Linked DNA regions of Homo sapiens. The protein of the gene in region 1 interacts with the protein of each later gene in a pairwise test. Each region holds a gene or a part of one and is shown in the gene's direction. Other genes may lie near its edges.

Region 1 (3,837 bases):
GAAATAAATGTAGATGTGTGTATTCATGTGCTGGTATATAAACATAGATTTCTTAACTTTCCACCTGAGAGGGCCTAGAAGTAATGACTACACCTAGTGTGATAATCTTGTTGTCTATCTACCATTATCCAATGAAAGCAACCAGAGCCCTTGGGAGAAATGGTCGATTCTAAGGCTGAAGCAGAAAAAATATTAGATAAGCCTGGCATATATTGTAATGTCAGAAGGAAAGACGCACTGAAAATATGATGGAAGCACGTCCATAGTACCTGGGCTACAGCTTGAAGGAGCTCTCAGTGAACTAATCTGGGACGAGTTGAGCAATGAGATAAATAGTGATAGTAAAGTGTTACCCATATGATAAATCTACACTGATCTACTATAGATCTACACTGATACAACTAAATGATTAAATAAGTAAATAAAATAAATAGAGGAGAAAGGGCAGTTCTTGCTCACATTAGAACTCTAATAAATGTAGAAGGAATGAAAATAGAAAATTACTTTTAGTCAAACATCACAGTAAGTTATAAGCAAGAATTATCAACAGATGCTAAAAATAGTGACTGAAAAAATTATGGAAGTATGATGAATCTTTATTTGCATAGTCTTCAAACTGTCTCTTCAAATGGTACTTTTTAGTGACAAAATGGTACATAACACTTTGTGGTAGAGAAACCTGGCAGAGAACACCTTAACCAAGTGATCAAAGTTAAGGTCACAGCACCAGAAAAAGTCATGTCAACATCATGAATCCCTTAATACAAGACACTGAAAATGGCAGAACATCACTTTGGTGACATTTGCAAAAAAAAATGTATAACTTCAATCTAATAATAAGGAAACATCAAAAAACCCAAATTGAGGGATATTCTACAAAATCATAGCCAGTCAACTTCTAAAATGTCAAAGACATGAAAGACAAGGAAAGAATAAGGAACTATCAAAGATGCAAGGAAAATACAGAAACATAATGACTAAATGCAATGAGGAATCCTGGATTGGGTCATGGAGCAGAAGGACATTAGTGGGAAACTGGTGAAATGTGAATAAGGAGTGTAAATTAGTTATCACTCTACCAATGTTAAAATCCTTGTTCTATGGTTATGGAAAATTTTAACTTTAGGGGAAATGATATATGGGAACTTTCCATACCCATTGTACATCTTTTCTGTAAGTGTATTTCAAAATAAAGTTATTTTTAAAGAAAGCCAGTGACCCAATTTGTAAGACAGCCTTAAAGAGAAACCAGGCTTTAAAAAACGTATATGAAAAAATGTTCAAGCATAGAAAACAAAAATTTAACCCATATTGTAAAGTTCAGCATAGCTAACTACCTAAAAACTGCTTTCCATTTCATCTTTTTCCTTGCACACAAGGGAACAACACCCTGGACATGGCTCCAGAGATCAACTTGCCGGGCCCAATGAGCCTCATTGATAACACTAAAGGGCAGCTGGTGGTGAATCCAGAAGCTCTGAAGATCCTATCTGCAATTACGCAGCCTGTGGTGGTGGTGGCGATTGTGGGCCTCTATCGCACAGGCAAATCCTACCTGATGAACAAGCTGGCTGGGAAGAAAAACGGTGAGTGACACCAGCAAAGCTCTAAGCCCCTTCTGTCCGTACACACGGCGAACATCCAGCTTAGGGATGTGAGCATAGAAAGAGATGAGAATGAATGTTGAAAGCTAACTTTCAGTCCATTAATGGGCTCTTTACATTGACTTTGGAGGATTACAGTCAACTGACTCTTCCCACTTTACTTTTATTTTATACTAAGGGTATAAATGTGCCTTTCTGGAAGGAACACAATGTTAATAAAGAAAATTAACTTCTATAATAATGACTTATAAAACATTTATTAAAATGTTCATGTAGTGACAGCAAGCTTTCAATGAACTTTAAGAAAAATATGAATGTTTCAGTGTGTATTAAATATCTAATTTTCCTGTTTCCAGGATTGTAATTAAGATTTATGCCAGTTGTATTTTCTTTTATCTCTTTTAACTTCAATTATGTTAACTTTTATCTCAATTTCCAGAAACACCTACTAAGTAATTTCTTTTCCCTTTTATCCTCTCCTTCTACAGGCTTCTCTCTAGGCTCCACAGTGAAGTCTCACACCAAGGGAATCTGGATGTGGTGTGTGCCTCATCCCAAGAAGCCAGAACACACCCTAGTTCTGCTCGACACTGAGGGCCTGGGAGATATAGAGAAGGTAAAAAAAATAAGTATTTTAAAAATTTCACTTAGGTAGATTAAAATCTACATAAACCAGGTCAGATCGATAACCATCTTTGCACAATCACTCCTACTCCTTGATTTAGGGCTCTAGTTAATTATATTAATATATTATTTCTTAAAATTTGTGTGGTATAAGCATTCAGAGTACACAATAAGTTCAATTGATTAATTATGGGTAAACCTATGAAATAATGGCTAATGATGTTTTCAGTTATTTCTCTTTCATATTATAGTAAAATGTTTTGGTGAGGCTGCTGAAGGTGCTTATAAACTTCAGTAGACGTTTTACAAACATGTCTGACTTTTTACAGTGGGATCCCACAAAGGTAGTAAAAATGTTCACATCCACACCAGCACCAGTAGAAAGAGAAGCAAAGTGTAAAATCTAATGATAACATCTTTGCTCATTAAGGATAATATATTACTACTGTTATAAATCTTAGACATAGAAAGCTTTTATTAAAGGAGCTTATTTTAACTACTGTGTAAAAAATATCTTACTATGATGTGCCATGGAAATGGAATAGGGTCATAAACTAAGTTTAGGGTACCAGTTTGAATTTTAGTAGCTGATCAAAATAGCTTCTCCTACCAAGTGCTCATGTGTTTCCTGCTGACATATATTTATATATAACACCTTAAATTATACATCATAAATATTATAAATTTGTTCTACAGGTAGAAAAAAATACTGCATAAGGAAGTGAGTTACCTAAGTTTTCAGAACTAATGAGAGACAGAGTTGGAGTTCAGTCAGTCTTCAGCTATCTGAATTGATTGTACATTCTGCTAGTCATTCTTCTTTGTGGCTTCTACAATGACTTACAGGGTGACAATGAGAATGACTCCTGGATCTTTGCCTTGGCCATCCTCCTGAGCAGCACCTTCGTGTACAATAGCATGGGAACCATCAACCAGCAGGCCATGGACCAACTTCAGTATCCTTTTTTGTGGTCCAGAACAGCAGTAAACCTAGAAAATAACAGCTTCATTTTTTCACCAAGTACAGAGGCAGACAGACAGGTACTGAAGAATTCATAAGTCCTCTCTTTAATAAATCTCATTATGCTGAACATCTCATTCTATCTCAATCTCCATCTGAACTTCAAGTCTTCCCAGTTACATGTCTCGTTAGATACTCAGCCACCCAAGACTCTGTATATCCTCTATCTGACTTAATCTCCTATGCCTGTCCAAACCTTCAATGTCCTCTAGAACTCATGTTCTCACTTCTGCAACTCTCTATATTCTTATCATCTGCTCTAAGTGTTGCCTTCTAAATGATACCTAGCTATACACTATAGATACTATTTCTCCTACAGACCTCTCCAGTGGTCTTATGTGATGACTATTTTTAATCCCATACCTTGCATATCATAAGTGTAAGAGATGAGTTAGGTATCCTCCTTGCTCCATATTAGAGTTCTGGACACTTTCTCATTCCTTTACCATTAAAAAGAGAATCTTCTTTAATATATATGCCCTCAGACTACACCACTATTTTTGTTGCAATTATCTAGCAACGTTCCAATAAATACATCCTTCATTCATTAAAGATTTTAGTTCCTAGTGTCTTTTTAGAGACTAGCAA
Region 2 (2,534 bases), about 61 Mb from region 1:
CTGAGGTCGCACCATTGCACTCCAGCCTGGGCAACAGAGCAAGACTCTGTCTCAAAAAAAAAAAAAAAAGAGATTGAGACCATCCTGGCCAACATGTTGAAACCCTGTCTCTACTAAAAATACAAAAATTAGCTGGGTGTGGTGGCGCATTCCTGTAGTCTCAGCTAACTGGGAGGTTGAGGTGGGAGAATCGCTGGAACCGGGGAGGTGGAAGTTGCAGTGAGCTGAGATGGTGCCACTGCACTCCAGCCTGGTGACAGAGCGAGACTCCATCTCAAAAAAAAAATAACCTGCTCTTTATGTGCTGTTGAGTGAGTGCTTAATTTTAAAATACATACCATGCTCCTCTCCCATTTCTCATTCTGTGGAAATGAAATCTATGTTTAGGGAATCCTGGAGTACCACAGAAAGGCTGTAGATAACTAGCCAGCTTGATGTTTCATGTAAATAATGTGCAATATGAATCTGTAAATTCATTTTCCAGAGGGGTGCAGAGAGAGGCCCACCTTCTTTTGGCCTTTCTCTTCGGACTCAAAGTAAGCTATTAGGTGGAGGAGATGCATTATTGCAATACCACACAGTTTGCCATGCCTTTATTTTATGAGTGGCAATGGCACAGATAGGAATGTCAGCCCAGATGTGGATTAAATTTAAAGATAAGTATGTTGGCTGGGTGCGGTGGCTCACGCCTGTAATCCCAGCACTTTGGGAGGCCGAGGTGGGCAGATTACAAGGTCAGGAGATCGAGACCATCCTGGCGAACACGGTGAAACCCCGTCGCTACTGAAAATACAAAAAAAAATTAGTTGGGCGTGGTGGTGGGCGCCTATAGTCCCAGCTACTCAGGAGGCTGAGGCAGGAGAATGGCGTGAACCCGGGGGGCAGAGCTTGCAGTGAGCCGAGATCACACCACTGCACTCCAGCCTGGTCGTCAGCGAGACTCCATCTAAATAAAAAAGATTGTATGTTGAAGAACCAAGGGGTAGAAGTTACAGAGATGCTCCGATCGTTCAGCATGTGGAAGAACTATCAGATAGCTAGAACTGTCCAAACAGCAACAAACTTCCCCTTAAGAGTAGTGAGATCCCTGTTAATATTCAGAAGGTGATTAGAAAATGCTGGTTAGAGATGATATAGAAAGTTTTACTTTTTATAAAAAAAAAATCTCTAAAATATATTAGACTAAGTAAGATCTGTCAGAGTTCCTGCTTAGACTTTGTTTAATCCAAAAGGAGTATAGGATTGAGCAGGATGTTTCATGAGCTTTAGTCTAGTATGGAAAAGTAGATGTTTTTCTGTGGGATTCCATAATGCCCCTTGAGCTTTTTTGTTTGTTTGTTATTCCTTTGGAATGTTTTCTTGTCATTAAAGTACAAAATCAACAGGTGTATAGTTTTATGTCAATTTTATTGCAGTATAATTTACATATAATAAAATCTACACATTTACGTATATAGTTTTGGCAAATATATGTGTAACCACCACCATAATCAAGATAGAGAAGATTTCTCTCACTCCAAAAAGTTGCCTCGTAGCCCTTTGCAGCAGCCCACTCCCAGGCCCAGGCAGCCAGTAAATATTTTCTTCACTGTAGATTGGTTTTGCTCTCAGATTAATGTTTAAAAATTGGACACCAGGTCGGGCGTGCTGGGTCACGCCTGTAATCCCAGCACTTTGGGAGGCCGAGGCGGGCTGATCACCTGAGGTCCGGAGTTCAAGACCAGCCTGACCAACATGGAGAAACCCTGTCTCTACTAAAAATACAAAATTAGCCAGGCGTGGTGGCGCATGCCTGTAATCCCAGCTACTCCGGAGGCTGAGGCAGGAGAATGGCTTGAACCCGGGAGGCAGAAGTTGCTGTGAGCTGAGATCGAGCCATTACACTCCAGCCTGGGCAACAAGAGTGAAACTCTGTCTCAAAAAAAAAAAAAAAAAAAAATTGCACACCAAACATGGACATACCACATTTTTTCCCCCTCAAAAAAGGGTAAAATATCTATTGCCATCTTTTATCATTTCCATTTCCTAAAAGGGATTTTTTTAAAAATGTTTTTTATTTTTGAGACAGAGTCTTACTCTGTCACCCAGGCTGCAGTGCAGTGGCACCATCTCAGCTCATTGCAAACTCTGCCTCAAGTGATTCTTGTGCCTCAGCCTCCCGAGTAGCTGTGATTACAGGCACCTGCCACCACGCCTGGCTAATTTTTGTATTTTTAGTAGAGATGGGGTTTTGCCATGTTGGCCAGGCTGGTCTCAAACTCCTGATCTCATGTGTTCCTCCTAAAAGGGCATTTTAATATGAAATAAGAAAGTGAGCTATGTAACTTTAGGATAAATTAAATTGATATGTTTTACTTTATGTAAAACTCACAACACCATCCTTGGCTGATGTAGGATGGTGAAAACTTTGTTATGGAGCAGTGTTTGGGAACCATCGTAGATGACTGGAAAGGTCTCTTCAAACCGTAAGATTTCAACATCATGAAATAGGTTGTCTGGAAAGGAGAACAGGCTAGAAGTTAGGAATCTTTCCC

What was found.
Region 2: the proteins of GBP2 (region 1) and PPP1R8 interact in a two-hybrid assay, tested with the Homo sapiens proteins (one large-scale study listed by BioGRID and IntAct).

Annotation. Positions count from the first base shown.
Region 1 is NC_000001.11:89,119,526-89,123,362, reverse strand, and holds part of GBP2 (guanylate-binding protein 2), read left to right. Parts: exon of another isoform or gene 1-1,379; 5' UTR 1,380-1,396; coding exon 1,397-1,586; exon of another isoform or gene 1,587-2,092; coding exon 2,093-2,220; exon of another isoform or gene 2,221-3,074; coding exon 3,075-3,184; exon of another isoform or gene 3,185-3,837.
Region 2 is NC_000001.11:27,847,454-27,849,987, forward strand, and holds part of PPP1R8 (nuclear inhibitor of protein phosphatase 1), read left to right. Parts: intron 1-2,534. UniProt on the Homo sapiens protein: Inhibitor subunit of the major nuclear protein phosphatase-1 (PP-1). It has RNA-binding activity but does not cleave RNA and may target PP-1 to RNA-associated substrates. May also be involved in pre-mRNA splicing.